4 linked regions of the Homo sapiens genome follow. The protein of the gene in region 1 purifies or fractionates together with the protein of each later gene. This does not show direct contact. Each region holds a gene or a part of one and is shown in the gene's direction. Other genes may lie near its edges.

Region 1 (7,037 bases):
ATCCGTAAGTTAAGCTCCATTAGTCTTGGAAGGGTTGGACCCACCTCCTTGTTTCAAACACTCTTTTTAAAATTGAGATCACTGGGATGGATGTCATACTTTTTATTCACGTTTCTAGGGAATTAACAAAGGATATTGATTGTGCATGTTAATAGTATATAATAATATATCATAGTCAATAATATTATATGTTTTAGATTGATAATAACTGTCAGTGATCTTCAAAAATAAAACGATAGTTGGTGCAGGTCCGTAATTCTTTTTCTGTTAAATATGTCTTAGAGCCAGATGTGTTTTATAATTCTGCATTTTTTTTGAGTTTTAGAAAAGGTACTTAGATGATTTTGTGTTTATATGTGCTAATGCTGTGGGACGGTATCTTAATATCTTTGTATCCCCAGAGTACGGTGCTTGGCATCTAATAGTTCTCAATAAATGTTTATCCCTCCATCTTAGTGTTCCTACTTACAAGAGAACAAAATATGCTGTCCTCCAGGCTGCTGGGAGCAGTGAATATTTTTAATTTTTTTTCAGAAGCTACCCTTGTCACGATTTTATTAATAACGCAACATAGTGGACCCCTGAGAGCCCCTGCAGACCACTGTCCTCCCGTTCTCACCCACCCCTCATTCACAGGCCCTGCTCCTAGCACAGAAGCAGTTGCTGGCTTGCCTTACAAGTGTGTCAGGGGAGCTGAGGCTTTCCACGCTCAGACTAGAATGCCCTTGGACATTGTCCACTTGCTTTCACAGCAGCTGGTGGCGGAGACTTTCAGGTGGCTTGTCGCATCTTGAGTGGGAGGGGCCTGTTGGATCACAGCACATCCTCCCCAGGTCCCATATAAGCCACATAATTTGTGTACTTCTGTTTCCTTCAGTCGTCCTCAAAAGAAACTGTAGGTCAAGGGTTGGCTAAACTTTTTCTGTGAAGAGCCAGATAGCAAGTAATTTCGACTTTGTGGGCTGCATACAATCCTGTCAAATATTCCTTGTAAAAATTTTCTTTTAACAATCGAGTAGAAATTTAAAAAACAGTCTTAGGTTGTGGGCAGATTTGGGCAGAAGGCCATTATTGTTTGCTGGCTCCTTCATTAGATCCAAACACAACATCGACTTCAGTTCCCTTTTGTTTTCATATTTTCAGATTGAAAGGGAATTCAACAGAACATCATACTACACTTCTTATATGACATGCCTGTGGCTCGAAATTCTTATTTTTCTTCAGTGTTTCGGGTGACACAGGCATTTAAATCTGACTGTTGAGGAAAGATAGGAAAGGCTACCTTCCTTGGAAAGTTGTAGTTACTGCCAGGCTGACTGGGACAGTCACTCCCTTGCCTTGACCTTTTGTCCCCACTATGAAGAACTTTAGAAGAATTGATGGAGAAGCACCCAGCACAGGCTCAGCTGTGTTGTTATTTGCAGACTCTGCCCAAAGGGTGGGCAGTGCTCAGCCACTCTGAGCTCTGAAAAGGCAACTAGCAACTTAAAAACCCTTATTTATTCAGGTCTACCATATTGCTAACAAAGACCATGCTTGTGCCTATGTAGGTGTTTGGCCTTGCAGACGTAGTTGCTGTTGTATAGGGCTGCTCTGTGGCTGGATGTTCATGAGTATAGGGTCAGGGTCAGTACCAGGCCTTCTCCTCCACATCCTACCACCTCCTGTTTTTTTGTTTGTTTGTTTGTTTGTTTGTGGGGGTGGGGAGCAGGGGTTATGGAGGAAGAGGGAAGCATAAAATGTAGCACCATGTCAGCTAATGCAGCATTCAAGTTAACAAATTAGACTACAAAATGATTGTTGGCATTAGTGCTGCAGCATGAGTTGTATATGCTTGAGGGGTGGATCCAAATATGTGCTTTTCACACTAAATGCATATGGATGGGAGCCTACGGGATGTAGTAAAGAATTATATTGGAAAATTAGCCTTCTCCCCTCACCCCCTTAGCTCTCGCCCTTGCTATTTCTGTTGTATAAGCCCACCTTTTTTTTTTTTGTTTTTTGTTTGTTGTTGTTCTTGTTGTTTTTATGAGACGGAATCCTGCTCTGTTGCCCAGGCTGGAGTGCAGTGGTGCTATCTCAGCTCACTGCAACCTCCGCCTGCTGGGTTCAAGCGATTCTTGTGCCTCAGCCTGCCGAGTAGCTGGGACTACAGGCGCGTGCCTCCACTCCCGTCGAATTGTTGTATTTTTAGTAGAGATGGGGTTTCACTGTGTTGGCCAAGCTGATCTCGAGCTCTTGGCCTAAAGTGCTGGGATTACAGGTGTAAGCCACCGCACCCTGCCAAAGCCCATCTTTTGTTTGTTTGTTTGTTTGTTTGTTTGAGATGGAGTCTCGCTCTGTCGCCAGGCTAGAGTGCTGTGGCGCGATCTCGGCTCACTGCAACCCCCAACTCCCTGGTTCAAGGGATTCTCCTGCCTCCACCTCCTGAGTAGCTGGGATTACAGGCATGTGCCACCATGCCTGGCTAATTTTTGTATTTTTAGTAGAGATGGGGTTTCACTGTGTTGGTCAGGATGGTCTCAATCTCCTGACCTCCTGATCCGCCCGCCTCGGCCTCCCAAAGTGCTGGGATTACAGGTGTGAGCCACCACACCCGGCCCAAAGCCCATCTTTTTAAAGACTTTCAAAACATTTGCCTGTTAGAGCTTGCAGCAAGCCAAGATCACGCCACTGCACTCCAGCCTATTCAACAAAGCAAGACTCTGTCTCAAAAAATAAAAAATAAAAAAAATTCACCCGTAAGCATGTAGTCACATGTACATATCATCATTTTAAAAAGTCAAATTTATAAATGATATAAAATGCTATAGAAATGTAGAATGGTGGTATTTCAGTGTTTTAGTAGTGACAGCTATTCACAGGGTCTTGCTCTGTCATCCAGGTTGGGCTCAAGTTATCCTCCCACCTTAGTCTCCTAAGTTGCTGCGTCTACAGCTGTGCACCACTATGCCTGGCTAATTTTTTATTTTTCGTAGAGACAGGGTCTCACTGTGTTGCCCGGGCTGGTCTTGATCTACTGGGCTTAAGCAATCCTCCCACCTTAGCCTCCCAAAGTGCTGGAATTAACAGGCGTGAGCAACTGCACCTGGTGCCAGATTTTTTATTTCTTGATCTGGGTGCTTATAACAGAGTTGTGGTTTTTTTGGTTTTTGGTTTTAATTCCAGTTAGAGTACTTTTTAAACATTATAATTTGTACTTCACTACAATTTATTTTTTTTAATTGAAAATAAAATTGCGTTAATTTTAAGCTGGGGGCAAGAAAACACAGCAGCCATGTCTATGTGACACCAGACAGAAAGGTCTGGAAACCTAAGTGTTAGAACCGCCAACACGTGCTGCCTCTGGGGAGTTTGAGGGAAGCATCTTACTTTTTATGTTTGCTTCATGTACATCTAGGCTATTTCAGTTTATATTCATTATTTTATACCTACAAATGGGAAAAAACCTCCCTAGTGGAGAGATCTTGGGGGCCTAGGAGGAAAGAGAGCCTTGCTGATTGAGAATCTTCACCCTCACCATTGCTATTGGAAGTGGCAGTGGTGGGGAGTGTGGGGCAGTGTGGGGAGAGCCAGCCGAGGCCATGTGTGGATTTTCACTGCTGTACCCAGTCAGATGCATGCTGCATACACTTATATTAGAAACCCAGGGCCCCCCGATATGAGAAGGTTTAAATACCGTTGATTGGGGCCCCCCGATTGAGAAGGTCTCAATACCGTTAAGTGTCCTTATTTATTTATTTATTTATTTATTTATTTATTTTTTGAAAGCGAGTCTCGCTTTGTCGCCCAGGCTAGAGTGCAGTGGCGCGATCTCGGCTCACTGCAAGCTCCGCCTCCCAGGTTCACTCCATTCTCCTGCCTCAGCCTCCTGAGTAACTGGGACTACAGGCACCTGCCACCACGCCTGGCTAATTTTTTGTATTTTTAGTAAAGACAGGGTTTCACCGTGTTAGCCAGGTTGGTCTCGATCTCCTGACTTTGTGACCCGCCCGCCTCGGCCTCCCAAAGTGCTGGGATTACAGGCGTGAGCCACCACACCCGGCCTATTTAATTTTTTTGAGATGGAGTTTCACTCTTGTTGCCCAGGCTGGAGTGCAATGGCACGATCTCGGCTCACCGCAACCTCTGCCTCCCGGAGATTCAAGCGATTCTCCTGCCTCAGCCTCCCGAGTAGCTGGGATTACAGGCATGCGCCACCGCGCCTTGCTAATTTTGTATTTTTAGTAGAGATGGAGTTTCTCCATGTTGGCCAGGCTGGTCTCGAACTCCTGACCTCAGATGATCCGCCCACCTCGGCCTCCCAAAGTGCTGCGATTACAGGCATTGAGCCACCGCACCCAGCCTCCTTTTTTATTTTATTTATTTATATATTTTTTTGAGACAGAGTCTCACTCTTTCGCCCAGGCTGGAGTGCGGTGGCACAGTCTCGGCTCACTACAACCTCTGCCTCCCAGGTTCAAGTGATTCTCCTGCCTCAGCCTCCCGAGTAGCTGGGATTACAGGTGCCCACCACTGTGCCCATCTAATTTTTGTATTTTTGGTAGAGAGTGGGTTTCACCACGTTGGCCAGGCTGGTCTCAAACTCCTGACCTCAAGTGATTCACCCCACCTCAGCCTCCCAAAGTGCTGCAATTACAGGCATGAGGTACCGGGCCCAGCCTGTCCTTTTATATTTAGAGAGCATTCTATTCTAGTGATATGTGATTTCTCTTGTGTGGCCTGATTTCCAGGCACTGCAGGCCCTAGCCTTGAGTTATTTGTAGAAGCAGGAGGATCTATTGTCCCAGCTCCTCAGCATCCTGGCAGTAGAGTATGCAAAATGAGAAAGACTCCAAGCAGGTAGATGTCAGACTATTCAGAGTTACTAAGAGTCCCTAGAGGCTGACACACACACACAAGGACAAAGTTACTAAGGGCAGCTTCTAAGTGTATCCTTCCTAGCAGATCACATCTTTCTGTTTGAATTTGAGTATAGTATATTATTTTAGGTACATCTTCCAATATGGTTGCTTATAAGTAAGATATGTAAATTAGCCGGGCGTGGTGGCTCGCGACTTTAATCCCAGCACTTTGGGAGGCTGAGGCGGGCAGATCTCGAGGTCGGGAGTTCAAGACCAGCCTGGCCAATATGGTGAAACCCCGTCTCTATTAAAAATACAAAAATTAGCTGGGCGTGGTGGTGGCCGCCTGTAATCCCAGCTACTAGGGAAGCTGAGGCAGGAGAATTGCTTGAACCCAGGAGGCGAAGGTTGCAGTGAGCCGAGATCGTGCCACTGCACTCCAGCCTTGATGACAGAGTGAGACTCTATCTAAAAAAAAAAGGGCCGGGCGTAGTGGCTCATGCCTGTAATCCCAGCACTTTGGGAGGCCAAGGCAGGCGGATCAACAAGGTCAGGAGATCGAGACCATCCTGGCTAACACGGTGAAACCCCATCTTTACTAAAAATACAAAATATTAGCCGGGCATGGTGGCGGGCGCCTATGTATAGTCCCAGCTGCTCAGCTACTTGGGAGGCTGAGGCAGGAGAATGGCGTGAACCCGGGAGGCAGAGCTTGCAGTGAGCGAGATCGTGCCACTGCACTCCAGCCTGGGTGACAGAGCTAGACTCCTCAAAAAAAAAAAAAAAGAAAAGATATGTAAGTTAGATTTACAACTTTAATGGACTATTTGGTCCATTAAAAGGACTTTTGATATTATAATTAGCATATTAAATGAATGCCAGTTTCCATGTTTATAGGTCTTTATTTGCTATAACTTTTGCTTTTAAAAATGATAACTAAAGACAATTTTGAGAAGAGAACATGGTTTTCACAGTTTCTTCTTCCTAATTATAGTTTTCATTTGAAATAGTGAGGCAGCTTGACTTGAAGCTCTTGTAGAAGTGTTCCTCTCCTCTTCCTCTTGATAAGCCACAGCCAGTTGCTTCACAGTTTTTCATGAATTTAGCCACTTTTTCTTCTGGCCAAGGTGAATCAGCAATTGGGAGCAGAAGAGTCTGCAACTTGCCTCAAAAATCTGAATTTTGCAGCTAGCTGCTGAGCATATGGTAAATTACAATATTCCTGGTGGCTTCTGAAAGCTGAACTCTGAGCAGTGGCCCCAGAGGCAGGCCTTGAGAGGAATGCTGACCTTAGTTACTGGTAGAGGCACCCTCATACTATCTGAACCTTTTGCCTTTGGGCTGTTAGCAAAAGTAACCCTGCCTCCAGCTCCTGGCCGTCCAGGTTTCCTCCCCACTTTCCCTTAGTCCCACTGTGGTGAAGCTGTGATCTTATCACATGGCTGCAGGAAGGGGCCAGTCTCTCCTTGGCAGTTCATCCCGTACACCAAGCCCAAAGGCCTGAGCTTTTCCCCAGGCGCCTTTGTCATGAGTCAGTAGGGAGTCCAGTGGGCTTTGGCCTGGGGGGCCCATTTTCAAATGTCTCCCTCTATAGAAAGAGTGACCCACGGTTAGTGCCTTGGTGAGTCGCTTTCTGGGAAATGGAGTAGGCTAAAGACCTTTGAAGGTCCATCTCTGGGGACCCAACCCAGTGTCGATCTTGGGCACTGTGAGGCTGGAGGATGAGGAGGGAGGCCCCTTCCTCTGGCAAGGAGTGTTGTGTTACTCACATTTTGAAGGCTGGATATCCCGTTTCTTTGTGGGGAAGCAGATGTTGACCAGCTTGCCTTCCTTCCTTAGGTGGTTTTTTGGCAAAATCCCCAGAGCCAAGGCAGAAGAAATGCTTAGCAAACAGCGGCACGATGGGGCCTTTCTTATCCGAGAGAGTGAGAGCGCTCCTGGGGACTTCTCCCTCTCTGTCAAGTAAGTATTTCCTGCTGCAGTTGCCTGGAATCCTGTCTCTGACTGATCCAAATTGTGAAGCCGTTGGTCAGGTGCCTGGCTACACACAAAATGGTGGAGGCTTAGCCTAAACAGTTTCTTCATTTCACATTAAAATCCTAATTTCTGGCTCCTCTCAAAATGAGTTCTAGAAGCACTGGATGTAGATTCCCATGTGGACACAGCCTTCAGGAGGTGAGCAGCAGCTCCCTG
Region 2 (7,798 bases), on another chromosome or scaffold:
AGGTCAGAGCCCTGCTGGGAAGAGTTTCTGGAGAGGGGTCATATAATCAGAATTATGTCTCAGAAAGAGAATTCTGGCTGTCTCAGAGAATGAACTGAGGTCAAAAATGTCTGTTACAGCTGAGAAAGAGACATTGAAGTCACTGCAGATTTTTCCCTGGAAATGCCTCCAAACAAAATAGACATTGTGGTTTGTCCATACCAAGAGTACTCTGTGTGGTTTGGGTCATGACACGTGAATTCAACAAGGATTTATTGAGGTCTTACTATGCGTTCAGCAAGGCCAGCTGCTGCAAAGACTAAAAAAGCCAATGAAATAACTATGGCTTTTTTCATCACCTACAATATACCAGACATTCTTTATACATTTTTTAATCTTTTTTTTTTTTTTTGAGACGGAGTCTCACTCTGTTGCCAGGCTGGAATGCAGTGGCATAATCCTGGCTCACTGCAACCTCCGCCTCCCAGGTTCAAGCGATTCTCCTCCCTCAGCCTTCTGAGTAGCTGAGATTACAGGCACGCGCTACCAAGCCCAGCTAATTTTTGTATTTTTAGTAGAGACAGGGTTTCACCATGTTGGCCAGGATGGTCTGAATCTCTTGACCTTGTGATCCACCCGCCTTGGCCTTCCGAAGTGCTGGGATTACAGGTGTGAGCCACCACGCCCGGCAAAAACTTCTTTTTAAAGACTCCAAGAAAGATTTAATGTGGTACTTCGAAGACGATCTCAGGGCTTCTAAGAATCTTAAGTGCATTGTCCCACTGCAGCCTGACATGTAAAGTAGAGAGAGATCTATTTAAAAAAAAAAAAATGAATGTGAATCTTGGAACATGGAATTAAACCTCAGCAAGATTTATATAAATAAAGTTTTTGAGAAAATTGTATATAAATCTTGGAGCATGGTGTGAACCTTAATAAGATATGGAAAATCTACATGGTTTTTAAGATACTTGTATTAATGAAACAACTGCCAGCTTAAACCAGAAAAAGTGCAAAATGAAAAGAAGTTTCTAGACCTTTCAGTTTCTCCTGGCATGAATGAAGCAGACTGAGAGAACTGCTCAGCTACAAATATGGGCCATTCTTTTTTTTTTTTTTTTTCTTGAGACGGAGTCTCGCTCTGTCACCCATGCTGGAGTGCAGTGGTGCGATCTCAGCTCACTGCAACCTCCCCCTCCTGGGTTCAAGCCATTCTCCTGCTGCTCAGCCTCCCGAGTAGCTGGGACTACAGGCGCCCGCCACCACGCCCAGCTTAATTTTTTGTATTTTTAGTAGAAATGAGGTTTCACCATGTTGGTCAGGCTGGTCTTGATCTCCTGACCTCATGACCTGCCCTCCTCAGCCTCCCAAAGTGCTGGGATTACAGGCGTGAGCCACCATGCCTGGCCTGGGCCATTCTTAAGAAAAGGAAATACATCTTAAAGGGAGGAGCCTAGATATCAGAGGGCAAAACCAAAAACTTGAGTAGGGCAATGGATTAAAACAAGGATCAGCAAACTACAGCCCATAGGGCAAATCCAGCCTATTGCTTGTTTTTGCACAGCCTGTGAGCCAAGAGGCCTGGCAGCTTCAGCTTTTGCTTCTAGAAGGCTGGCTGCCATGACTACCGTGGTGTAGCAAAAGAGGAGAACCTGGAGGATGTAAGACCAAGGAAGAGAAAGGCCCAGCCTGCTCTTTGTCATTCTAGCAATCCCAGCTCAGGCGCCAGACGAATGAAGCTGCTTTCAATCTTCCAACCCCAACTAAGCTACCCAACCCAACATGCTGTGGAGGAGCACCAAGCTGTCCCCACTGGGTGTCCTGCTTAAATTGCAGAATTACAAGCAAGTAAATGGTTATGTTTAACCACTAAGTTTATGGGGATAATTTGTTATACTGCAAAGGTAACTGATACGAGGGCCTTGGGTGCATTATTTAATCCCTGGACTGGGCAGGAGATTTTATTTGGACTCCAATTTCTTCATATGTAAAAATCAAGAGCCGGGTATAGTAATTCACGCCTGTAATCCTAGAACTTTGGGAGGCTAAGGTAGGCAGATCACTTGAGCCCAGAAGTTCGGGACCAGCCTGAGCAGCATAGCAAGACTTTGTCGTCTCTACAAATAATAGAAAAATTAGCCAGGCTTGGTGGCGTGGGCCTGTGGTCCCAGCTACTCAAGAGGCTGAGAGGAGAGGATTTCTTGAGCCTCCGCAGTCAAGGCTGCGGTGAGCCCTAATCATGCCATGCGTTCCAGCCTGGGTGACAGTGTGAGATCTCAACTAAAAGATATAAGAATAATAATAGTAAAAATCAAGGATAGGGCAATTTAATCTCTAGGGTCCCTCCCTGCTTTAACATTCTATTATTCAGTGAATAATTGTATTTTATCATTCTATCACATTTAGTGAGTGCCTATCATTGCTAGCTAGGCGCTAGTAGGTGTTGAGTGCAGCAGATGAAGTGTGAACAAAACAAAGTCAAGCACTTAGAGAGCAATATGGACAACAGCAGACAATCTGAGGGCTGATGTAAACATTCTCCTCAACCAGGGGGGAAAATAGAGTCTTCTGACTAATAAAAGATCTTTTATACTGGAAGAACTGGCCTCACATTCCTCAGAAATAGCAAACTATGACTTCTAATAGCTTCATTTTTATGATAACATCAGTGCACATTTCTTTAGCATGATGCAAAGACTGGTGATTGTACAAATCTATAGAAGTTAGAATTTGTGGCATGCCCAAGATGAGCACAAAACTCTTTTGGACATTTGATGGCTTTTATATATTCCACATGATTTGAATTAAATTTTATCTTCTGTAAAGGGCCTATCACAGCACGATTAGGAGTAAGAGACTGTGGAACCTATCTTGAGATACACAGAAGGGAGGCTGAATCGTGCCCAATATTACTGTCTGCCTGTGTTCCCCTAACCTTCCAAAATGTTCACACAAAGTAAGCAGATAAACATTGTTTCTGACTTTGAAGCTTTCAGGCTAAATTGAAGAGCTATAAATGTAAATCAGCAATTGTACCCAAAGTGTTGCTTGATTTTCTATTTGGCTCTGTGGTAGGGCCCATCGCGTATAATTCCTCGTGAAAGCGCTGGGTAACAGAAAGCTTTGGGCGGGTTAAAAGACCTCAGCTGTGGCCGACTTTGCCTGTGTCACTCTATGCGAGTGGGCAGAGCACTGAATGTCTGTTGGCCTTGCTATCATTCTCTGATTCCCAGGAGTGAATTGACGCTCAAATGGAAAGTAAAAATGGATGTTAAGATAAATGGGAGATTGAAACACAGAATCATCAAAACCAGGAAAAAGAGCTGCAGGAAGTAGTGTGCAAGGAGGGGTTTAAAAAACGCAGCCAGAGATCCTCGGGATTCTCAGCGTCGCTTTCCTGTTAGTTTGAGGTTCGAATACAGTATTTGCGTCGTCTCACATACAACAAATAGGTGTCTGCCTGCACGTTGCCAACGTGACTCTTGGAAGAAAAGCGAGAAGCAGCAAAACCGAGCAAGGGAGTTGGCTAAACGGCTGCAAGAAACACACACACACACACACACACACACACACACACGGAAGAAAAGCGAGAAACAGCAAAACCGAGCAAGAGAGTTGGCTAAACGGCTGCAAGAAACACACACACACACACACACACACGGAAGAAAAGTGAGAAACAGCAAAACCGAGCAAGGGAGTTGGCTAACTGGCTGCAAGAAACTCTCTATCTCACTCTCTCTCTCTCTCTCTGTGCTGCAAGAAACTCTCTCTCTCTCTCTCTCTCTCTCTCTCTCGGAAGAAAAGCGAGTAACAGCAACACCGAGCAAGGGAGTTGGCTAAACGGCTGCAAGAAACACACACACACACACACACACACCACACACGCACACACACACCCCAGCAGTCATGAAAGAAGGAGAGGAAAGTTCTTTGTTGAAACTCCGGGTTCGAAACACACACACACACACACACACACACACACACACACACACACACACACACACGAAACTCCGGGTTCAAAGCTATGGGCCCCACCCCGCTCAGGACTGCCTGCTACGAGGCCGCGCAGAGATGCCCCAGGCGCGGAGAGAAGCGGAGCACAGCCGTGCTAGGGACAGGGGCGCCACCCTGGGCGGGACTGAGGTGGGATCCTGGCTCCCGGCTTTGGCCTCCCAGCCCAGGCTCGGGGCTTCCTGGCCCTCGGAGGCCGGGGCGGGCCAGGCTTTGCAGCACAGGGCGAATCTCCCTCCCTCCCCGGGCGCCCCCCGGGAACTGGCGGCCAGAGGTTAAGCTGACATGTTTGCAGACGGTAATGGGGCGCTGGATGCCAACAGCCCCAGCTCAGGGGAGTCCAGATTTATGTTTCTTGGAACAATTCTTTCCTCCATTGCATTAACGCCAAAAAAAAAAAAAAAAAAAAAAAAACACTTAATCAAGCCCAGAGTCTACTACTAAAGTCTTGTTAATTTATTAACCCAAGCCGAGGCTGAGAGCTCGACGTGGCACTTAAGAAGTAAAATGAGGAAAGGAGGAAGAAACGGGGTCCCTGTGGGCCTCGGGGCAGCCTCGGCCGGGCTTTCTCGGAGGGCAGGGCCAGGGGCGCTGGGGCCGCTCCCGCGTGGCGCGGCTCGGGAGCGTTCCAGGGCGCGGTCCCTGCGGGCCGGCGGGCCGGGGTGAGTCACCCCTGACTTGGGGTGGGAGCGGGCCGTGTAAGGGGGAGGCGGGGCGGGGCGGGGCGGGCCTCGCCTCGCCTAGGGAGGATGTGGCGGGTATAAAAGCCCCACCCAGGCCAGCCGGCTCTGCTCAGCATTTGGGGACGCTCTCAGCTCTCGGCGCACGGCCCAGGTAAGCGGGGCGCGCCCTGCCCGCCCGCGATGGGCCGCCAGCTAGCGGGGTGTGGAGACGCTGGGAAGAAGGGTACGGCCTGGCAGGGAGGCCCCGGCAACTGGCCCCGGAGGCCGTCGGGGGCAGGGGGCTGAAGGGACGGCCGGCACTGGAGAGTCTTTGGGGAGGGGGCTCAGGGACAAGGTGTTTGGGGCAGGGGTGAGGGGCCACCGGCCCTCGGGCCGGGAGGGTGCAGGGCAGAGGTGGTGGGGGGTCGGGCTTCTCTAAGAAGCCCTAGCGGGAGCGGGGCGAGGCGGCGTGGGGAGAGGGGCGGAGGGAGGCCCCGCATTCCAGACGCGCCAGGCGCCGCCGAGGCAGGGCGTGGCCGCCCAGGGAGCCGCAGGTCCCCGGCGCAGCAGTAGCAAGTGGGCTTTCCACTGCCCTCTAGAAAGTGCCCCCCATCTGCTCTAAGTTACTGTACTCGAAACAAACGCGCGCTTGTGGAGTTGAACCGACCAGCAGGAGGGAAGTAGCGGGGGAAGACGAGAGGGGGGAGTGTGAGTAGGCACCCCTCAGCCCCCCATAAAAGAAGACATTAAAACGTCAGTTATTCCCCTTGCTCTAGGTTATCTTGTAGCATAGCAACTTCGGATTTCACTCTACCCGGAGAGTTTCCCGCTTGGTTGAACACATTGGCCTCAGGAAGGTAGTGTCCCCCATGATTCTGTGGGGAGGGTTGTCCTGTTACTCGCCATGATGTGACAATGAGTCAGGAACTGAGAGTAGAGAGAAGGGCGTGGCCCCGGGGCCTCTCCCTTCTGGCCGCTCTGTGCAGCTGGCCCCACTGCTGGTGTGGAGGGCTTGGGTTCCATCAGCCGGCTGTTGAGAAGAAGGAGGGGAACACAGATAAGTTTCCTCATCTGGGAAGGTGGCTTAAGGATGCCTATTCTTACCACCACCCAGAGTTATTGGAGATTTCAAAAAACACAGTCATTAGGTAATAAATGTGTAAAGTACACAAAAAACAAAGTGCTGTGCAAATGCAAAGTGTCATTTTTGTAGTAAGATTGCCGTTTTAAAGCTGTGGGTGTTCTGAGTGCGTGTGTAAAAGAGCAGTGGCCTCATGGGTGCACGCTGGGCCATTACCAAGAACCTTAAGTTGTTGGTGTGCAAAGGCCTGGGCCCCAGACTGTACTGATGGATTCTGTTCACACGTGTGTGCTACTGTGCCTGTCTGGAACTTGGTGACTTGGAATGCAGAATGCACTTTCCCACTGAAACAGTGTTGCAGAAGGTGCTGACGTTCCCAGGCTAGCCCTGAAAGACCTTTTTAACATGCACTGCCTGATTATGGGATTGGTGGTGGGGAGGTGGAGGGTAGTGAGGGGCAATGTGTGTGTAGGAAGACTAAATCACTGAAATATTTTTCTGGAACTTTTTTTAGCTTTAAGGTTGACACTGAGTAAATTATTTTAATTGGAAAATTATGTCTTTGCCCCTGTTCCACTTTCTTTTTTCCACCTTCCACCTCCTTAGAGACGCTCTTCTGGCTCTTCCGTGACGCATTACAACAGCCATCCAGGCCGGTCCAGTTACGCTGCATTCCTTCCTCCTTCCCATTTCGGCGGACCTGCATCCAGCTAGAGACTAGCAGATTGAATCGATATTCATTAAGTTAGGAATGGTTGGTGGTCCTAAGAGCCTCAGCAACCGAGAGGAGTCTTGTTATTTAAAAAACAACGATACTGGGCGTGGTCGTGGGCCTGTAGTCCCAGCTGCTCAAGCTAGTGGATCTCTTGAGTCCAAGGCCAATGTGAGCAACATAGCAAGACCCAGTCTCAAAAAATAAATACATAATAATAATAAAAAACCCTCGTTCACCTAAACAGATCTATAATTTATAGAATGTAAAGCAGCAATATTCAGGCAATATTAAGGAAGATTTTTGGTAAGACTGGGGCAGCAGAGGTGCCCTTGATGGGCAAGGGCCAGGAGTGTTAACACAGTCCTGCTTAGTAATTTCTTCCCTTCTTCCAAGTCTGTCGATTATCTAAAGGTCAAGGGTTTGTCCAAAAATGTCCCTTGCATCTGCAGTGGAAGGATGTGACATGTATGTGCATTTTTACAATTGGAGGTTTGTGATTTGGAGACCGTTTAGATTTTGTAATTTCCCGCAGTGCCAACTAGACTGCCTGTGGTAAATGCCCAGGAAATATTGCTGACTCACTGACTTTGATTAGGAGCTCAGTCTTGCACTGGAGTCTCAATATTTAGCATCTTGTGTCTTTGAGCTATTAAACTATGGTATTGATTGACATTAGGCTCGCAGTCATGGCCGTTAGTTTCCTGGCTAATTTCTGATTTAAGTAGTTTTCCTGGCAAAGTAGATGTGCTTCTATAATTGCTATTGATTTTGAGGGCTGTAGGCTCTTCCTACACCACTGGGCCTAGAATCTGGCACTAATGCATTGTCTGGAGCCTTTGTTCTCACCCTTCGCTTGTGCAGAGCCTGGAGCCTGCGGAGACATTTTTCATTAAAGGAGAGCGGGATTGTCACAAAAGGAGTCTCAGGCTCTAGTGGGCTGCTTTAAACAACCATTTATTCCACAAAATATTAATTACCTACTGTGTTCCACTCATAGTTATGAGCACTAGGGATACAGCAGTGAACAAAACAGACCCCCGCCAAAAATAAAATCCCTGCTCTTTAGACCTTAAATCTGGCGGAGAGAGAAGGAAAAGAGACAAAATAAGTGAATTGTTGGATTTTAAACTTTATATTTTCCCAAATTAATACTAGTTTCTAAACTTGGTGGGAGTTCATTTCCCCTTTAATCCAGCTGTTCCACAGACCTAAACTTCACATTTTACCTACCTCGGGGAAGTTTTGCTTAAAATTATGGTGTCTTAAGCTGCCTTCCAGATTCAATTGTGAGAATTAAATAGAAATGGAATGTTCCTCTTTTTTTTCACATGAGAATCCTCTTCACTTGCC
Region 3 (5,365 bases), on another chromosome or scaffold:
CGTACATATATATGGATGAAATTTGCTGTTGGTGCTTTTTCATTTCTCAGGTCTTTGAACTATGCCAAAAAAGCATACTGCTTTACGTTTAAGGGTTTTGTTTAATATTATATTATTCTTTAGGAGATTTGAAGAAATTTAGAAATAGGGCATCTTCCCTTGTATATTTCACTATTGGGCAAAACAACATTTCCGAAACAAAGTCTCTCAGTTTCTGTACCTCCTCCTACTCAAGGTTCCTGGTTCCCTCCTCAGTAGTACTGTGTTCTCAGACTGCCAAGCCAGGCACTCTAGCTGTTTGTCTCTGTGTTCTGTCTTGCCTTTCAGTATGGTTTAGTGGAATGAGTGCTAGGCACAGTCGGGAAATCTGAATTCTTAAGCTGGCTTTGTTCAAGTGATTTGAGCTTTATTACTACTCATTCCTAAGAACTCAGGAATAGCCTATTTCCTACCCCTAAACATCCTCAAACTTTTGTGTCTTTGTATGACTGTGCTTTCGGGGGAGGGCCTGCGTTCGTATGGCACCTGCCGGAGTGGTCAATCCTTCACCCCCACCCCTGCAACACCCTCTGTTGATACTTCTAGGCATGAGATTATGGAACCGCTGGCATCATTCCTAAGTCATCATTAGGGCAGAGTTAACACTCACCGATCCTTATAGTCCCAAAAAAGGGGCAAATTCTTATTAAAGCCCTTGTACTCCAGGTGTGGGTCTCCCGATGCAACGTGAAGTCAGAATCAGACATGTGTTCGCAATTCACCCCTTCACCAGGCACTTTCTGTGTGCTGAGCACTTCAGCTAGGTGTTTACTCTGGATGACAAGATAATGGGCTAGGCCAGCCCTCATGAGGGTGACCTCCAATTGTAGACTGGCAACATTGCCAAGCACCCTCCATGACTGTGACATGATTCCAAAACACAACCTGTGTTGGTACTAACTTGTTTCAGAGACTGGTTCTAGAGTCTGAATTATTTAGTGAGACTTTCTGAGGAAGTGGGTTTGGATCCTTTATGGGATGTTTTTATAAACAGTATAATTCTCTTAATATATGTGGAAATAATGATGTCACACCTTTTGAGCCTGTGAAAACTGCAGTTTCTTGTTGTGTCTTTTTAAGGACATTTCCTTGCAGTTTATTATCAGTTATGTATAGCATCTCTACTTGGAAGAGATGGGATACTACAGATTCTTGGTCAATGTAACAAACACTAGTTTTTGAAGAGAAATTTTAACAAAGGGAGTGTTTTCAGAAACTTTACCAGATTCCTTCTTTTTTTAAAATGAGTAATTATGGTCCTCACTTTAAATTTCAAAGGTATTGAAAATAGTTTGGGCAACTATTTATAATGCCCAAGATTCTGTTTAATATGTAGTTATGTTCTTGGGATATGTGGATATATAGGTTTTTAATTAATTGTTATTTTTAACTACAGGAGCTCTTACCAAAGTCAAGGAGAGTAGGCGACACGTGGAGGAAGGGAAGATGGAGGTGCAGAAGGCTGACGGCATTCAGGATCGCTGTAACACTATTTCTTTTGCCACTTTGGCTGAAATTCACCACTTCCATCAAATTCGAGTGAGAGACTTTAAATCACAGATGCAGCATTTCTTACAACAACAAATAATATTTTTCCAAAAAGTTACCCAGAAGTTGGAAGAAGCTCTTCACAAATATGATAGTGTTTAATGACTGGACGTTGGATTATGGACTTTTTCAGTTCAAGGATAATTTCTACAGCAGAATAAAAACTGCTGTCAAAGAGCTATTGCCAGCTATCAGTGGTGGTACAAGGACGGTTTTGTGTTCATCTGAAACCCAGCTGAATTTATAATTATGTAGGAAATAAACAGTTAATATGGTTATATAATAGAAACAGTACCACACATTGTAACTAAATTATACTATGTATGCCTACACTACCATTGTAACTTTTGGAATAATGATTATACTATTTGCCTTATTGCTTTTTGAAGTATGGGTATTTTAGTGCATACTTTGTAGACCTCAAAACCCATGAAGGGTCTCAAAGAAGCTGGCTGGATACAAGCCTGCTGTGGATGCCTTTTTACTCTCATAGATTGGGATTACCTAAATTCAACCTATTCTCTGTTTACAAACTCCAACTAGAGCAGCTATGCGACCTTGTGCCTTTAGACTCTTGGTTTTTCATTTCTCCCCGTCCCTTCCCCACCTTTTTAAAGTAAGCCACAGCTTTTCTGATTGAAAGAGTGAAAGGCCAGTGCATATAATGACAAACTGATGATAACCTTATATTGGCAGTAGGGGGTGGGGGGGGCGGTGGGGTGGGACGATCAGCTGTCATCAATTTGCACAGCAAGTATTATCTCCTGATAAGATGCTGGTGAATGCAGGGGAGTGAGATTCATTGCTCATCTTTGGATATGAAGTCTGTTAGGGAAGAAACAGTGCCACTATTCCCTTAGATGCAACAGTAGCATAGCCTCTTCACCCAGGCGTCCCAAAAGCTTGGCGTGAAGATTTCAGCAAACATGTCTTACAACATGAGGAGGAGGAGTCTAAATCAGTCAGGGGATAAAAGTATCGAATCATTGACAACACACACTTGGCTTTAGTTCTTAGGAGGGTTTTGTTTTTGTTTTTGTTTTTAGGTTGAAGATTTTCTTTTAATATTCAGTTTTTTGAAAAAAAATGGATCTACACTGTTAACTGATTGAGACTCCACTGTGATTCACTTGTTTACTTAAAAACTTTTCAGGGATGTCTGTAAATTTCAGTGTTAATATGTCATGAAAAGTGGTGTGGATTGATCTAAGGAGGGACCAGAAATAATTTTTGCTATTCCAAATACTGAAGGAAAAAGATAATTGATTTATACTATGTTTTAAAAAAAAAAAAGGTATTGATGAGCCCCCCCCCCCCAGGACATTTAACCTTAAAATTTATTTTAAATGTATTCTTTTATTATTATAAGGGAAATACAGATGGCTGATAAATACCAAAAAGATTCAAAAGCAGCTTAATTTAAAAAGCACAAAGAGATTCTGGCTTACAGTGCCCCAATCTCAATGTTTTTATAGTTGCTGAGCTAACTAATGTGATTATTGAGTTTACAGATTTAAAAATTGTCACTGTTAGAGTATCTACTGTTTTTATGAAGTCAAACTTATGCTGCCTCAGAAATCCCTGGGTACTGAAATGGTAACATGGAAGTGAAGAGGTCACTTTGAAATATTGGTGAGTCACAAAGATTAAAGAAAAGGATCAGTTTGCAGATACTCAGAAAAGGTTATTGAAATAATTACTGAACAGCACATTTTCTCTCTAAAAAGTAGTTTCATATGGGTTGTATTTTTAAGATCAGATTATCATTTTGATATTTGGTCAAAATTTTGTACCTTAGGTTACTTAGAGCCAGATTTAACATCATGAACATTATGTGGCTTTGTCTTTACTACAGATATGTGGAACTGTAACCAAATATGTTGTCTCTAAAACTTGTTGATTGCAAAATACAGTTCTATAAACAAAACCCATATGTATATATAAATGTTAATTTTGCGGAAGTCTGGAAATTATAACTATAGCATTTAAGTTTGAGTCTGTATTGGACAAATAAGCACCATGCTTTTCAAATGATTTAAAAATTACTTTTATTTGCCTCTTTATTTTGATGGTGGTTGGATTTTTTTTTTTTTAATAGTAAAATCACTAAACTTGTGCAATGGTAGCATGGAAATTATCTGAGGTATATTGTATGATTGTACTTTAGCCAGGGTGGACATAGCTTAAATTATAAAAACTAAAGATGAAAGTACAAGGAAGTATAAGTTATACTTATGTAAGTATAAATTCATGCTGCCTACTTCTAAGAGAAATTTCATTCTTCATAACCACATAACATTATAATGCCACTGATTCATACGGGATTTACATTAATTCTATGGGGGAGGACACTAGAATTATTAGTGTTCATTTTCATCTAAGATCTTTATTCTCTAACGTTCTTGGTCCTATTGAAACATTGCAGTATGCAAAACTACTGCAATGTTAAACCCAAGAGAAAAGCCATTATCATGTGTATGCTGGTCATCATGATCAGTGTGGTACAATTTTTAAAAATAAACTATCATGCCCTTCATGCCATTATTTGTCTTTATTTCTATGATTTATAATCCTGATATGTGATGTGTTTGTAACACAGGGTGTGCACTTGAGCCTGGTTTTACTGTTTTTATTAGACAGAGTTGTTTATATGCTGTAACTGTAACGCAGCGAGACTGGTTCTACAGCCATGTGTCGTAATCTTGTTCCCCGTCCAAGCTGTTGTATCTGAAGGTACCCAGTTTGCACCCAGGATGAGGGAACGCATTCAAAAGTGAAATGTAAAGCCAGTGCACGAATATTATAGTAATTGAGATTTTCCCAGGCTTCACTGATACAGTTGTTTTGCATTTATTCACAATAATACAGCAGATTCTTAAATGCCGATTTTTAATTGTCTTAAATTTTGCTGCTGTTCTCATAATTAAGGACTTGAAAAATGTTTTAGTCTGTCAAGTATGTAAAGTTTGTGTAAAAACTTTTAAATGTCATTCTTAAGTTCATTGCCATAGCCATTTTCCATTTATGTCTTCATTTTCCAAAAATCAAATGCCATGTCTGATACCTTTAAGTCCATAAGCATTCAATTTTCTCATTTCCACCTTCATCTTTGGTTAACAGAATAAGTAAAACAGGGTATTATTTATTTGTAGTCTAGAAATGTTGAATATTGTTTTATTTCCTTCAAAATGTTATGATTAGTGCAGATCAGCCATGTTTATCTTTTTAAAAAATAAACAGGTTGCTTTATTTCTTAGCTTCAATGGAATATAATTATTTTTTCTCCACTCATCAAGGAGGCATTTATTTAATGTGAAGAATTACACAGAAAAATAGAAGAGCATGTTCTGTCTTGAGCTTCATCTGCAGTTACCATAGAAATTATTCATCAAACACTGTAGCTAATTTGATTAATTTAAAACCATCATCATTCAGATAGTCCCATGGAGTATCTGCTTCCATTAGTGACATCAGGAATTAAGCACATAGCAGTAAGTTGTGAGTGAGAGGTTTTGAAATAATAGCTCCCATGAGTCCAATACCTGAGACAGAAGCAGGTGCTTAAGTAAAGTACTTGACATACTGTCTGTTGGTTGCCATAAATAGGCGAACTCCAACACACATAAGCCAAAATATAATAGCTACGGGACCTGGCATATCTTGCAAGGGGCCAAAGTCCCATTTGGCAAAGCTTGCCCTCTTTGTGGGGCTTTGTAGTCTTGTATCTGCTTATCTTTACAGATTTGTTTTACATATATGTTTTTTCTCCTGGCCTGCC
Region 4 (4,560 bases), on another chromosome or scaffold:
TTTGCTTATGAAAAGCTGTGCTTGAGACTTAGGTACTTTTCTCACGTGGACACACTGATCCCATCCCATATTGCATCTTGGAAGAGATGGATATCAAGTACACTTTGGTAGCTGAAATAATCATATCTTTCTGATGTCTATTGTATCTCCTTTGAGGAAAAGAACACACATTTTTAATGGAGATTGGCTGCTTTCAGGTATGTGTGTCTATCATTGAAAGAGCATGGACTCAAACATCAGCCCTGAGTTCTTGAGTCCACCCAACTCCCATCTTCTTGTGGCACAGGAAAGCTGCCCTCTCCCTCTCCCACCACACTCCTGACTAATGGCCTTCACTGCGTCGCAGTCACTCCTTCCCTACGGACTTCTTTGAAGCTCTTCCTTTTGCACATACGGCTTTTTTTTTTTTTTTTTTTTTTTGTCCTATTACCTCCTCTGAGCGCAAATCACTGGCTACAAGGGACTTACCAGTCTGGATTCAGCAGTTTCTTTTCTAAAACCCATTTGGGTGACTCAGCAGCCGCATCTGCTACCTGATTTTATCCTGGAGAATACAGTGCAATATTTCTCTTTGATTATTTATTCCTCTTGATTGTGGAATTAATTTGATTGCTTGCTAATGGTACTAGTAGTACTCCTTTCAGAAGAAAAAATGGAGCGATTTAGGTGACCAAATATTACATACATAAATAGCCACATGAAGTTTTAGACGTTTGGACTTGAAGCCTCAAAGATCAACCAACCAGTCCCCTTATTTAGTAAATAAGGAAATTGAGGCTACACACAGAAAATTGTGCTACAGATTATTACTAATAACCCAGCTTGCTAAATTAGGCTATACCTAGGTAATCTCTAGAAGACAACTCTGACAGACTCTTTAATATTTACCCCTGGTTGGAACAATATTTGAAATGTCCCAGATATTTCTATGCTACTTAGATATTTGTGGCAAAGCAGAAAGCTTTTTGACTGTGAAGGCAGAGGTCAGCACTGGGGGAAACTTGCTGGTGGTCTCTCCCACAACCTTGCCCAGAGTCCTTTCCACTAAGGAGGTGAAGAGAACAGAGAAAGAGATTTCCATTTCTGCTGCCAGAGCTGGTATTTGCCTGCCTGATTCTCTGTGTTTCCTGTTTCACCGCCACCCTTTCAGGAGAGAACTACACCAGTTCATCATGAGGGTCAGGGAAGCAAAAGCTCTCAGATGTGTCCAGGGCGTTACTTAAGAAATGAGTATGCAGATTCTGGAAGGGGTGTGGAAAAGGTGATCCTTTACCCCCACCCAGGAAAACCTGCATTGTGCTAGCATGGAAGAATCATGGGCTTTGGAATTAAACCCATTTGGTGGAATTAAACCCATTTGGTTTCAAATCCCAGTTATGACATCTGTTAACTTTGCAAACTCACAAAAATTATTTGAAATTATCTGAGTTTTCATTTTCTCACCTTCCAGAATGGGGATAATGCCTCCTGCATCGGTTGTTGTGAGGTTTCAATGAGATGAAATATGGGAAAGAAGAGGTACTCACCTGATGGTCCCTGCTTTCCTCTGCTAGGCCTGAGTAGGAACTGGAACTCTCTAAGAGCATTACTCATACTTTTTTTTTCTTCCAAGGTAGTTTGGAATGTGAGTGCAAGTTAGTTCTGCACATACAGCCCTTCTCCAAATGGTGGTTTCCTTTGAGGTCTTTTACATGATTATTTATGACTAGAGACAAACTTAATAAGAACTCAAGAGGATTTTAAATGGAGAGAACTCAAGCTGTAGAGAAAGGAGGAGGCAACAGACAGGATATGTAGGGGCTTACCTAGAGCCTGGCACGACTTCTGAGAAGTCACCCAGCAGACCGGCTAGAGGGGATTTGTGTGCCACACTCTACTTGCCGGGCTGCCATTAAAATAGAAAGATATAAAACTGGGTCACCAAAAAAACCAAACCTCAAGGCTATCCTTCCAGAGCAGTAGAAATGAGTCCCACAGCCTGGTCTTTGAGCAGAGGCTGGGAAGATAGGATACATCACTGTCTGGATACCTTCTCTTTTTAATAGAATATATTCCGTATGATTCCCTTTCCACCTTAATGGAAATAATAGCTCTCTCCTGCCTGAACAAAAGGGATTCCAGGTAGTATTGTGGCTAAGAGATTACAGCGGACGATGGAAGGTTCATTTTTTAGGGAAGGTGTTGGGTAGGAAGAGTCACATTTGACAGAATTCATAAATAATGTGTCCTGAAGTCAGAGGATGACTGCAAAGAAACACCTCATGATTCCATTAAATATAAAGAGATAAGGAGCAAGGAGGAAAAAAGAGAAAGAATTGGTCTTTATTTTTCTTGCTAAGAACTCTCTGGAGTATTGAAAGACATTGAAATTATCCCTAAAATTGTCACAACTTTTGTGAATACTGGTATACGGTTGGAGGTGTTTTTAAATCTTTATTTCCTCTCTTTCTTTGTTCTAGTGACTTGTCTTGCTTTAAGATTTTTTTTAAAGGATTGTTTTATTCAACATATATCAAGTTCTTATGGAATGCCAGTCATGGTACTAGCCCCTTGGGATGTAGTGGTTGAGTGTGTTCAATGGAAACAGCCCCAGTATACAAAGACAGTTCACTCTGGTGTGCTGTAGGATTGGAAAGGGAGTGGTACCAGATGAAAATGAAACCCTAAAGAAGACTGCTGGGCCATGAGTTGCTTCCTCCTCCTCCACCTTAACCCTCTGATTCCAGAATTGCAGTCATTTTCTTCTGCCAAGGAAATCCATTAAAAACTGCAGCCACACTGCAATTTCCTAATGTAGAACAAGATATAAAGCAGGCTTTGAGACAACAACCTACCTTTGTTTACTCTTTCCAAGCTGGAAGAGTCCTTCTCCTCTAGTTGCCCCTAGGTCACTGGCTAATTTATTTTAAAATTTAGATGGAACTCATGTATAGTTAAGTGCACAAATCTTAGCCGTGCAGATGGGTAATTTTCACATAGCTATTTGCCCACATCCGTGCCTCTAAGATAGAGACATACACTGTTTTCAGCACCCCAGAAAGTTCCCACATGCCCATGGTGCCATTTTGTGAAAGGTATTTATAAGGCCCTTCAAATTTGTGGCTTCCTTTCTCATACTTCTCAGGTATAATGAAAGGGGGAGAAAAACCCCACCATCAACACAAAACAAGGCTATAAAGACTGTGCACCTTTTAACAAGTCAATTTGTAGTCAGTCCCTGGGCCTGTCTTTTTTTTTTTTTAATTTTGAAGCTACCTGAGGTTTAGAATTCCTTCAGCCCTAGCTGCTTTTATTCTGCTTTTTATTTAAACAAAAAGAGGGGGAGGATCTGAAGGAAACTAGTTTTCTGTACAAAGGCTTTGAGGTCCATGGACTATACTTGTCCCATTTATCATCCCAGGTGGTGCTTTGACCCTGCCATACCCTGGCTATTAAGATAAAAAGATTTGTGGACATTAAAATTATGAATATGTCAGTAATAATCCAGCACACATTGAAATATTGACACAGATTACCATAATTTGTGCAACATCTTATAAACAATGTCATTTCCATAGTAGTCTAAGGCTTCACCAGCCTGGCCCACTGTATCTAGACTTTAGGTTCATTTTAATAATTATGCTTTCCTTCTCTGTATCATTTGGGAAGTTGATAAATATCACTTCCTTAGATACCTTCATTCAGTGATATATCTGGCTTTTACAATTAAATTGGAAAAGGTAAGTTTCTCTTTGGTGGGTTGAGAGTTGGACCATCAATTCTAATCTACAAAAGGAAATTCATGATTTCACTCTGACGCCTAGGATCTAGCCAAGGCTGGTCTGCAGTATCAGATGTCCAAACTCATCTACTATTAGCCATATTTTGTGAGTCGTTTGTCTAAACTTTGTCAAAAATGCCTTTGCCATGATTTTGTTGCTATCTGGATTTCAAACATGGACAGTTAGGAAGATGTGCATTGAAGTAGGAAAATTTTGTTCAGATTTGCTGTTATTTATTTTTTAAATTAAAAATGGAAATGTATTTTAAAGTTTATTGTGTGTTTAGTTTGTTATTGCCCTTAAGTTGATGAAATCATTCCTGAACTTGGCAGTTTTTCCTTATCCATGCCTCCTTCATGACACATCACACCTAGCATTTTTCTGGCTTGTTTCCTTACAGGTCCTGTTAGGTTAAACCTGCACTGTGGGGTCCTGGAGTCATCTTTGCCCAGAAATAAGAAAAATTACAAACCACTTGCTTCCTTTCACCCTATCTATTTTTTTTTCTATCTAGGCTGACAGTTTTCTGATAGCAATTCATTTAATGTACATAGGTTCTGTTTCTTTACCCATTCCCCATAGATATTTAGACAGGTAAAGAGAGAAATAAAAAGGTTAAAGGGGATATCTAATAACTTACATGAAAAGGATAGGAACTGGTTCTAAAATGGTTGAATGTTTGTATCACCTGGGGAGAGGCCATTCCCAGACCAATTACATCAGAATTTCTGAGGGTGGGGAGTAAGATCCCAGGCATCCATATTTCTTTAAAGTCCCTCCCAAGTTATTCCAATGCTAG

What was found.
Region 2: the proteins of GRB2 (region 1) and ANXA2 purify together in Homo sapiens (affinity purification with western blotting; 5 studies listed by BioGRID and IntAct, with this or other methods). This does not show direct contact.
Region 3: the proteins of GRB2 (region 1) and SNX18 purify together in Homo sapiens (co-immunoprecipitation; 5 studies listed by BioGRID and IntAct, with this or other methods). This does not show direct contact.
Region 4: the proteins of GRB2 (region 1) and DOCK5 purify together in Homo sapiens (co-immunoprecipitation; 5 studies listed by BioGRID and IntAct, with this or other methods). This does not show direct contact.

What each region holds. Positions count from the first base shown.
Region 1 is NC_000017.11:75,325,667-75,332,703, reverse strand, and holds part of GRB2 (growth factor receptor-bound protein 2), read left to right. Parts: coding exon 1-4; intron 5-6,683; coding exon 6,684-6,806; intron 6,807-7,037. UniProt on the Homo sapiens protein: Non-enzymatic adapter protein that plays a pivotal role in precisely regulated signaling cascades from cell surface receptors to cellular responses, including signaling transduction and gene expression.
Region 2 is NC_000015.10:60,394,969-60,402,766, reverse strand, and holds the start of ANXA2 (annexin A2), read left to right. Parts: upstream 1-4,780; 5' UTR 4,781-4,824; exon of another isoform or gene 4,825-4,853; coding exon of another isoform or gene 4,854-4,896; intron 4,897-5,428; exon of another isoform or gene 5,429-5,509; intron 5,510-6,339; exon of another isoform or gene 6,340-7,798. UniProt on the Homo sapiens protein: Calcium-regulated membrane-binding protein whose affinity for calcium is greatly enhanced by anionic phospholipids. It binds two calcium ions with high affinity. May be involved in heat-stress response.
Region 3 is NC_000005.10:54,541,744-54,547,108, forward strand, and holds the end of SNX18 (sorting nexin-18), read left to right. Parts: intron 1-1,435; coding exon 1,436-1,689; 3' UTR 1,690-4,843; downstream 4,844-5,365.
Region 4 is NC_000008.11:25,411,682-25,416,241, forward strand, and holds the end of DOCK5 (dedicator of cytokinesis protein 5), read left to right. Parts: 3' UTR 1-4,030; downstream 4,031-4,560. UniProt on the Homo sapiens protein: Guanine nucleotide exchange factor (GEF) for Rho and Rac. GEF proteins activate small GTPases by exchanging bound GDP for free GTP. Along with DOCK1, mediates CRK/CRKL regulation of epithelial and endothelial cell spreading and migration on type IV collagen.